Linked DNA regions of Homo sapiens. The protein of the gene in region 1 purifies or fractionates together with the protein of each later gene. This does not show direct contact. Each region holds a gene or a part of one and is shown in the gene's direction. Other genes may lie near its edges.

Region 1 (3,751 bases):
GGTTCACCTTGTACTTCCCTTTCTCCCTGTCATTTCTAAAAGAAGCTCTGTGAAAAATTCCTTTTTCAGACTTGGGTAATTAAAATGTTCCTCCACATGGTAGGTGTTGATAAGACTCTGTATTCATAATACTGGTGGTGAAAAATATGTGGCATTTGGGCTGTTACCTCTGCTTAGGTAAGAGAATGAAACTTCCATATATCTCTTGGTACACACCACAGGGGAAGAAAAATCTTTCTCCTGCCCATTTAGTTCACTAGGTTGGACTGTGTAAATTAAATTGACAAAAGACAGATTAAGACGAGAAAAGGATTATTACACATGCACATAGATGCTTCACAGGAAAGAACTAAAAGCCCGAAGAGGCAGTTAGAACTGGGGGCTTCTATACCATTTTAACGATGATAAAGTGTGGAGAGGCTAGACAAAGGAAAAGGGGGCTTAGCCTTTTTGCAGTATGGGAAGGTTACTAGAAAATGTATGGGTTTGTTATGCAGGTAAGACTCATTCTCCTCTTTCTGGTATGGGTGAGTGGTAAAGCTTTGTTGTTTGTTTGTTTGTTTGAGACAGGATCTGGCTCTGTTGTCCACACTGGAGTGCAATGGCATCATCTCAGCTCACTGCAACCTCCACCTCCTGGGCTCCAGCGATCCTCCCACCTCAGCCTCTGGAGTAGCTGGGATTACAGGCATGGGTCACCACGTCTGGTTAATTTTTGTATTTTTGGTAGAGACAGGGTTTTGCTATGTTGCCCAGGCTGGTTTCAAACTCCTGGACTCAAGTGATCCACTCGCCTTGACCTCCCAAAGTGTTGGGGTTACAAGCGTGAGCCACTGGGCCCGGCCTGGTAAAGCTTTAAAAATAAAAATTTATGTCACCTTTACGAAGGGAAATTTATGTCCTGCTTTTAGGCAGAAAGGGGGAGGTCAAAGTTGTTCCTGAGTCTTTAGTTTCTGAACTGTTTTAAGCTCAAGAATAATCCTTATGCTGAAGTGGCATATTTGGGGTGGCATATTCTCATCCTCTTCACTATGAATGTGGACCACATTTTTGCAGCTTTTATTTCCGCAGTTACTTATGTTTCTTTCTCTGCTATTATATGATCAGCTCCATAAGTAAAAGACCTGTCTTACCTGCACATCCTCAGCACAGAGCTCAAGCATTAAATAAATATTAGGGGAACTGGTTGTACTTTCCTACCAGCCCATAAATGGGCATCAGAAACTCAACGTGTTAGAATTATTTGAAAATCAGAGTAACTAGTTTGCCGACTTCTAGTGTGCAGCCTTTACGCCAGCTGTTGTGGCTGTGTAGGGGTCTTCTTTTCTTCCATCCCTATTCTACGATGCATTCAACATAAGCGAAGTGTTATTATTCACGAAAGGCGCTAATTTGTGGACGGATGCACCTAATGTTCTTAACCCCTGGTTTCTTCGCACTAAAACCAATCCCAATAGCATTCCGTTTCAAGTGAAAGGTTTTTATTTTTTTAAACTAAGTAAATTTCTTTTTCTCCCAATTTACTCACTGCAGTACCTTATACTACAAGAACCAGCAACTGGTTTCCTCTTAATGTCTAAACATAACATCATTGTTAAAAATTAGAGACTTTGTCACAATTTGCAGTTTTTAAAAGTAAGGTAAATAAAGTATCTCATTATACAGAAGTACAAGGTCTCGTTCTTGTACATTTCGCTCTTCCCAAATATTCTGCAATCAGAACCCTGATTGCAAAACTAAGCACATGGATTCTCAAAAGACACCAGGCCAGAGAATTCTTTCATCCTAGTCCCAATCTCGCCCTTGAAAGCGTGGGAGGGGCAAGGCTGCGCCACGGGAAATAAATGAGGGCTGCCAAAGGCCGTCGGAGGCCGCGGGGCTCGGCAGGCAGGCGAAGACCCAGCGTCGCATTGCAGAGTCGAGACGACCTGGGCTGCCGTGACGCCGCAGTCGCCGGCCCTAGTTTCCCCCGCCCTGCCCGAGCGCGTCCGCGCCTCTCGCCCGAATCCGGGTACCACCGGCGACTCGGGTCGGCCCCTTCTGGCTTGTTCCGGCGTCCGGCCTGGCATGCGGGTGCTGCGGCTGCTGCGGCTGCCGCCGCCGCTGCTGCCGCTGCCGCGGGGGCTGCGGCTTGGGAAGCTCCGCGCTTCCGCAGGCCTGGCCTCCGCCGCCCGGGCCCCCGCAGCCTGTCGCTGGACCCCGCGCCGGCCCAGCGCACCGCCCTCAGGCCCCGAGCCCCGCCCTGGCCTCCGCCTCGGCCTCGCCTCCAGCCCCGGGACGCGGCCCGCCACCGCCGCTGCCGCCAGCCCAGACGCGCCGCCCGCATGCGCCGCGACCATGGAGCGCCCCGAAGCGGGTGAGACCGGGCTGTCCAGCGGGCCGGGGCGGGGGCGACAGGAGCCGCGGGGGCCTGGGCCTGCTCTGCGCTCGAACTTTGGGAGGGCCTGACCCGCGCCGGCCCTTCTCCGAGTCTCCCTCCTTCCCAAAAGGACTCAGGGTAGCACCGAGAAGCCCGGTGCAACCGGGGTGTACATCAGTGCTGCCTGTAGCGAAGCGTTTTAATGCACGCATTGTGGGTCCGACAGGAGGCGGGGGTATGAGCCCATCCCCGAGTTTCACTTTTCTTTCTCCCTTTCTCATCCTGTGACCCTTTGCACAAAGTTCATGCCAGTACACATTCCTTCCGACGGTGTTGATGTGGGTAAATGTAAACAAAACCTAGTAAAATTTCGATTTTATCTTATATCACAAATATTAAGCACCCGAACCACCATACTGTCTCATTTAGGATTTTCTGCCAGGTTTGGACATGACCGCTTTTAAAACTGGCGCCAAGTCTACACTAGCGCCCGGAATGAATTTCCAGTTTAGGTCAGCGTTTGTTGTGAACTGAACTTTGTGATAGAGCGAGTTAGGGGTGGACTTTCGGTAAAAGGGTCCGCAAACCAATTAGAGAAAAGGTGCTCCTCTGCAAGAGTTTCATAGGATAAACTCATAGAAGAGTATAAAAAGCATAAAAACGTTAAAGTGTACTATATAAATAGCAGTTAATCGTGTGAATATGTTGACAATTGTTAAGTGAATGATGACAGTGAGTTTTTGCATTTAGGAAATGCATGGGAATGGAAATTGTTAAGGAGAAAAGAGCCATACTCCAGTTCCTTGTTTAAGTGCCGTGGCTTTGCAATTCAGGATCCTGTTAGCATATCTGTATATTTTCCTTACTCATAAAGTTTAAGATGTTTGTGGAGGTTACTTCCTCCTTTCATCCATTTTCGGACACTATTAACTTGTTTTGTCCATTTCTCCCTAATAATTTGGATTTTACTTTTGTTCCCTTTTTATGAGGAGGAAAGGAAAGCCTGGAGGTCAAGTAACTTGTTGATTTCTACGCAGCTGTCAACATTTACTAACGTGTAAGATGCTAATACTATTTTTAGTAGCTAAGCCAGGACTAGAATGGATGCCCTTAGCCCTTTCCAGTTGTTCTTAGGAATAAACTTATTTATGTATGTACTTATGTATGTATGTATATATGTATATATGTATTTAGAGACAGGGTCTTCCTCTGTTGGCTCAGGTGGAAGTGCACTGGCGCGATCATGGCTCACTGCAGCCTAGATCGGCTGGGATCATGCCAACCTCCTGTTTCAGCCTCCCCAAGTAGCGGGGACTACAGGTCTGTGCCAACATGCCTGACTAATTTTTGTATTTTTTTTTTTGTAGAGACGGGGTCTTGCCATGTCACCAA
Region 2 (3,751 bases), on another chromosome or scaffold:
GAGAGTTTTTAGCGTGTTGAATTTTGTCAAAGGCCTTTTCTGCATCTATTGAGATAATCATGTGGTTTTTTCTTTGGTTCTGTTTATATGCTGGATTACATTTATTGATTTCCATATATTGAACCAGCCTTGCATCCCAGGGATGAAGCCCACTTGATCATGGTGGATAAGCTTTTGGATGTGCTGCTGGATTTGGTTTGCCAGTATTTTATTGAGGATTTTTGCATCAATGTTCATCAAGGATATTGGACTAAAATTCTCTTTTTTGGTTGTGTCTCTGCCTGGCTTTGGTATCAGGATGATGCTGGCCTCATAAAATGAGTTAGGGAGGATTCCCTCTTTTTCTATTGATTGGAATAGTTTCAGAAGGAATGGTACCAATTCATCCTTGTACCTCTGGTAGAATTCGGCTGTGAATCCATCTGGTCCTGGACTCTTTTTGGTTGGTAAGCTATTGATTATTGCCACAATTTCAGATCCTGTTATTGGTCTATTCAGAGATTCAACTTCTTCCTGGTTTAGTCTTCAGAGAGTGTATGTGTCGAGGAATTTATCCATTTCTTCTAGATTTTCTAGTTTATTTGCGTAGAGGTGTTTGTAGTATTCTCTGATGGTAGTTTGTATTTCTGTGGGATTGGTGGTGATATCCCCTTTATCATTTTTTATTGCGTCTATTTGATTCTTCTCTCTTTTTTCTTTATTAGTCTTGCTAGCAGTCTATCAATTTTGTTGATCCTTTCAAAAAACCAGCTCCTGGATTCATTAATTTTTTGAAGGGTTTTTTGTGTCTCTATTTCCTTCAGTTCTGCTCTGATTTTAGTTATTTCTTGCCTTCTGCTAGCTTTTGAATGTGTTTGCTCTTGCTTTTCTAGTTCTTTTAATTGTGATGTTAGGGTGTCAATTTTGGATCTTTCCTGCTTTCTCTTGTGGGCATTTAGTGCCATAAATTTCCCTCCACACACTGCTTTGAATGTGTCCCAGAGATTCTGGTATGTTGTGTGTTTGCTCTCGTTGGTTTCAAAGAACATCTTTATTTCTGCCTTCATTTCGTTATGTACCCAGTAGTCATTCAGGAGCAGGTTGTTCAGTTTCCATGTAGTTGAGCGGTTTTGAGTGAGATTCTTAATCCTGAGTTCTAGTTTGATTGCACTGTGGTCTGAGAGATAGTTTGTTATAATTTCTGTTCTTTTACATTTGCTGAGGAGAGCTTTACTTCCAACTCTGTGGTCAATATTGGAATAGGTGTGGTGTGGTGCTGAAAAAAATGTATATTCTGTTGATTTGGGGTAGAGAGTTCTGTAGATGTCTATTAGGTCCACTTGGTGCAGAGCTGAGTTCAATTCCTTGTTGACTTTCTGTCTCATTGATCTGTCTAATGTTGACAGTGGGGTGTTAAAGTCTCCCATTATTAATGTGTGGGAGTCTAAGTCTTTTTGTAGGTCACTCAGGACTTGCTTTATGAATCTGGGTGCTCCTGTATTGGGTGCATATATATTTAGGATAGTTAGCTCTTCTTGTTGAATTGATCCCTTTACCATTATGTAATGGCCTTTTTTGACTCTTTTGATCTTTGTTGGTTTAAAGTCTGTTTTATCAGAGACTAGGATTGCAACCCCTGCCTTTTTTTGTTTTCCATTTGCTTGGTAGATCTTCCTCCATCCTTTTATTTTGAGCCTATGTGTGTCTCTGCATGTGAGATGGGTTTCCTGAATACAGCATACTGATGGGTCTTGACTCTTTATCCAATTTGCCAAGTCTGTGTCTTTTAATTGGAGAATTTAGTCCATTTACATTTAAAGTTAATATTGTTATGTGTGAATTTGATCCTGTCATTATGATGTTAGCTTGTTATTTTGCTCGTTAGTTGATGCAGTTTCTTCATAGTCTCGATGGTCTTTACATTTTGGCATGATTTTGCAGCAACTGGTACCGGTTGTTCCTTTCCATGTTTAGCACTTCCTTCAGGAGCTCTTTTAGGGCAGGCCTGGTGGTGACAAAGTCTCTCAACATTTGCTTGTCTGTAAAGTATTTTATTTCTCCTTCACTTATGAAGCTTAGTTTGGCTGGATATGAGATTCTGGGTTGAAAATTCTCTTCTTTAAGAATGTTGAATATTGGCACCCACTCTCTTCTGGCTTGTAGAGTTTCTGCCGAGAGATCCGCTGTTAGTCTGATGGGCTTCCCTTTGAGGGTAACCTGACCTTTCTCTCTGGCTGCCCTTAACATTTTTTCCTTCATTTCAACTTTGGTGAATCTGACAATTATGTGTCTTGGAGTTGCTCTTCTCGAGGAGTATCTTTGTGGCGTTCTCTGTATTTCCTGAATCTGAATGTTGGCCTGCCTTGCTAGATTGGGGAAGTTCTCCTGGATAATATCCTGCAGAGTGTTTTCCAACTTGGTTCCATTCTCCCCATCACTTTCAGGTACACCAATCAGACGTAGATTTGGTCTTTTCACATAGTCCCATATTTCTTGGAGGCTTTGCTCGTTTCTTTTTATTCTTTTTTCTCTAAACTTCCCTTCTCGCTTCATTTCATTCATTTCATCTTCCATTGCTGATACCCTTTCTTCCAGTTGATCGCATCGGCTCCTGAGGCTTCTGCATTCTTCACGTAGTTCTCGAGCCTTGGTTTTCAGCTCCATCAGCTCCTTTAAGCACTTCTCTGTATTGGTTATTCTAGTTATACATTCTTCTAAATTTTTTTCAAAGTTTTCAACTTCTTTGCCTTTGGTTTGAATGTCCTCCCGTAGCTCAGAGTAATTTGATCGTCTGAAGCCTTCTTCTCTCAGCTCGTCAAAGTCATTCTCCGTCCAGCTTTGTTCCGTTGCTGGTGAGGAACTGCGTTCCTTTGGAGGAGGAGAGGCGCTCTGCTTTTTAGAGTTTCCAGTTTTTCTGCTCTGTTTTTTCCCCATCTTTGTGGTTTTATCTACTTTTGGTCTTTGATGATGGTGATGTACAGATGGGTTTTTGGTGTGGATGTCCTTTCTGTTTGTTAGTTTTCCTTCTAACAGACAGGACCCTCAGCTGCAGGTCTGTTGGAGTACCTGGCCCTATGAGGTGTCAGTGTTCCCCTGCTGGGGGGTGCCTCCCAGTTAGGCTGCTCAGGGGTCAGGGGTCAGGGACCCACTTGAGGAAGCAGTCTGCCCGTTCTCAGATCTCCAGCTGTGTGCTGGGAGAACCACTGCTCTCTTCAAAGCTGTCAGACAGGGACATTTAAGTCTGCAGAGGTTACTGCTGTCTTTTTGTTTGTCTGTGCCCTGCCCCCAGAGGTGGAGCTTACAGAGGCAGGCAGGCCTCCTTGAGCTGTGGTGGGCTCCACCCAGTTCGAGCTTCCCAGCTGCTTTGTTTACCTAAGCAAGCCTGGGCAATGGCGGGCGCCCCTCCCCCAGCCTCACTGCCACCTTGCAGTTTGATCTCAGACTGCTGTGCTAGCAATCAGCGAGACTCCGTGGGCGTAGGTCCCTCCAAGCCAGGTGCAGGATATAATCTCCTGGTGCGCCGTTTTTTAAGCCCGTGGGAAAAGCGCAGTATTCGGGTGGGAGTGACCTGATTTTCCAGGTGCCGTCTGTCACCCCTTTCTTTGACTAGGAAAGGGAACTCCCTGACCCCTTGCGCTTCCTGAGTGAGGCAATGCCTTGCCCTGCTTCGGCTCGCACACGGTGCGTGCACCCACTGACCTGCGCCCACTGTCTGGCACTCCCTAGTGAGATGAACCTGGTACCTCAGATGGAAATGCAGAAATCACCCGTC
Region 3 (2,726 bases), on another chromosome or scaffold:
TAGGACCGTTGGATGGAGAAAGAAGCATCATGGGCTTCCCAAGTTCCAGACCAGCTTCCCACCCTGTCCTTGTACCCCTTCCTCCAGGTGCGCTTCCCTTCCCACTTCAGCTCTGACTTGAAGGACCTGCTGCGGAACCTCCTGCAGGTAGATCTCACCAAGCGCTTTGGGAACCTCAAGAATGGGGTCAACGATATCAAGAACCACAAGTGGTTTGCCACAACTGACTGGATTGCCATCTACCAGAGGAAGGTGGGCCTCCCCTCCTTAAGCCTGCTGAGGGTTTGGGAGCAGGCCAAGAGTCAGGGAGGACAGCCAATAGAGAAATAGAGAAGAGAACACAGGTTCAGGAGCAACCTAGAGTAGAGAGCTTAGAGCAGTGGGGTCTAGAAATGGGATTCTGGGGTCATTTGGCCATTCCATGACCTTGTGCAACAGATGCCTCTCTCTGGGAAGTAATTTCCCCTTTGATGAGTTGCTACATTAAGAGTTTCGGGCTGTTAAGAGGAATCCATAACCTAATGGTAAGCACAGGCCTGAGTCAGAGTAAATATCTCTTGAATGTTAGGCCATTCGCATTTATTGTTGTAATAATGATTATGTTGAATGCTGAGGTCTGGGTGATTCTTGATCCCTCTCCAGGTGGAAGCTCCCTTCATACCAAAGTTTAAAGGCCCTGGGGATACGAGTAACTTTGACGACTATGAGGAAGAAGAAATCCGGGTCTCCATCAATGAGAAGTGTGGCAAGGAGTTTTCTGAGTTTTAGGGGCATGCCTGTGCCCCCATGGGTTTTCTTTTTTCTTTTTTCTTTTTTTTGGTCGGGGGGGTGGGAGGGTTGGATTGAACAGCCAGAGGGCCCCAGAGTTCCTTGCATCTAATTTCACCCCCACCCCACCCTCCAGGGTTAGGGGGAGCAGGAAGCCCAGATAATCAGAGGGACAGAAACACCAGCTGCTCCCCCTCATCCCCTTCACCCTCCTGCCCCCTCTCCCACTTTTCCCTTCCTCTTTCCCCACAGCCCCCCAGCCCCTCAGCCCTCCCAGCCCACTTCTGCCTGTTTTAAACGAGTTTCTCAACTCCAGTCAGACCAGGTCTTGCTGGTGTATCCAGGGACAGGGTATGGAAAGAGGGGCTCACGCTTAACTCCAGCCCCCACCCACACCCCCATCCCACCCAACCACAGGCCCCACTTGCTAAGGGCAAATGAACGAAGCGCCAACCTTCCTTTCGGAGTAATCCTGCCTGGGAAGGAGAGATTTTTAGTGACATGTTCAGTGGGTTGCTTGCTAGAATTTTTTTAAAAAAACAACAATTTAAAATCTTATTTAAGTTCCACCAGTGCCTCCCTCCCTCCTTCCTCTACTCCCACCCCTCCCATGTCCCCCCATTCCTCAAATCCATTTTAAAGAGAAGCAGACTGACTTTGGAAAGGGAGGCGCTGGGGTTTGAACCTCCCCGCTGCTAATCTCCCCTGGGCCCCTCCCCGGGGAATCCTCTCTGCCAATCCTGCGAGGGTCTAGGCCCCTTTAGGAAGCCTCCGCTCTCTTTTTCCCCAACAGACCTGTCTTCACCCTTGGGCTTTGAAAGCCAGACAAAGCAGCTGCCCCTCTCCCTGCCAAAGAGGAGTCATCCCCCAAAAAGACAGAGGGGGAGCCCCAAGCCCAAGTCTTTCCTCCCAGCAGCGTTTCCCCCCAACTCCTTAATTTTATTCTCCGCTAGATTTTAACGTCCAGCCTTCCCTCAGCTGAGTGGGGAGGGCATCCCTGCAAAAGGGAACAGAAGAGGCCAAGTCCCCCCAAGCCACGGCCCGGGGTTCAAGGCTAGAGCTGCTGGGGAGGGGCTGCCTGTTTTACTCACCCACCAGCTTCCGCCTCCCCCATCCTGGGCGCCCCTCCTCCAGCTTAGCTGTCAGCTGTCCATCACCTCTCCCCCACTTTCTCATTTGTGCTTTTTTCTCTCGTAATAGAAAAGTGGGGAGCCGCTGGGGAGCCACCCCATTCATCCCCGTATTTCCCCCTCTCATAACTTCTCCCCATCCCAGGAGGAGTTCTCAGGCCTGGGGTGGGGCCCCGGGTGGGTGCGGGGGCGATTCAACCTGTGTGCTGCGAAGGACGAGACTTCCTCTTGAACAGTGTGCTGTTGTAAACATATTTGAAAACTATTACCAATAAAGTTTTGTTTAAAAAAAAAGTGTCGCTGGTGTTCTCGACTTCGATCACCCACCCACACACCCCCAGGGGGTTGGAAAGGGAATTTCGGACCCCAGCGTGCAGGCCGATCAGGTCCTGGCTTGAAGTCCTTGTAACCAGGGTTTAGCTGAAATTCCGGCACTCCTTCGGCCCCGCAGGAGAAACGAGCGTCAAACTGCCCTTTGACCCCAGATTCGGGGTCCCCAAATCTGCGGCGCGCCCCCTCGGCGTCCAGCCCGGGACCGAGAGGGCGCTCTAGGGAGGCGCTGGGGCTGGCGCGCCAGGAGGCCGAGCGGCGGCGGGGGCGGCCCTGGCAGGGGGAGTAGAAGGGGGAGAGGGTGCGCGCCCCCCTTCCCGCATCCTCAGCGCCGGGCCAGGCGCGCCTGAGGGACGCGGGGGCGGCGGCAGCAGGAGGGTCCCCGCAGCACCCTGCGAGCGCGGCAGCCCCGGCCCGCGGGCGGCGAGTTCCCGGTAAGTGCGGTCCCGAGAGCGGAGCGCGCTGGAGAGGCGTGGAGAGGGGGGCTGGGCGCCGGGG

Evidence for each region.
Region 2: the proteins of AKAP7 (region 1) and PRKACB purify together in Homo sapiens (affinity purification with mass spectrometry; 5 studies listed by BioGRID and IntAct, with this or other methods). This does not show direct contact.
Region 3: the proteins of AKAP7 (region 1) and PRKACA purify together in Homo sapiens (affinity purification with mass spectrometry; 4 studies listed by BioGRID and IntAct, with this or other methods). This does not show direct contact.

What each region holds. Positions count from the first base shown.
Region 1 is NC_000006.12:131,133,427-131,137,177, forward strand, and holds the start of AKAP7 (A-kinase anchoring protein 7), read left to right. Parts: upstream 1-2,040; 5' UTR 2,041-2,067; coding exon of another isoform or gene 2,068-2,337; coding exon 2,338-2,356; intron 2,357-2,443; exon of another isoform or gene 2,444-3,416; intron 3,417-3,725; exon of another isoform or gene 3,726-3,751. UniProt on the Homo sapiens protein: Probably targets cAMP-dependent protein kinase (PKA) to the cellular membrane or cytoskeletal structures.
Region 2 is NC_000001.11:84,231,122-84,234,872, forward strand, and holds part of PRKACB (cAMP-dependent protein kinase catalytic subunit beta), read left to right. Parts: intron 1-3,751. UniProt on the Homo sapiens protein: Mediates cAMP-dependent signaling triggered by receptor binding to GPCRs.
Region 3 is NC_000019.10:14,091,154-14,093,879, reverse strand, and holds the end of PRKACA (cAMP-dependent protein kinase catalytic subunit alpha), read left to right. Parts: intron 1-87; coding exon 88-252; intron 253-642; coding exon 643-768; 3' UTR 769-2,192; downstream 2,193-2,726.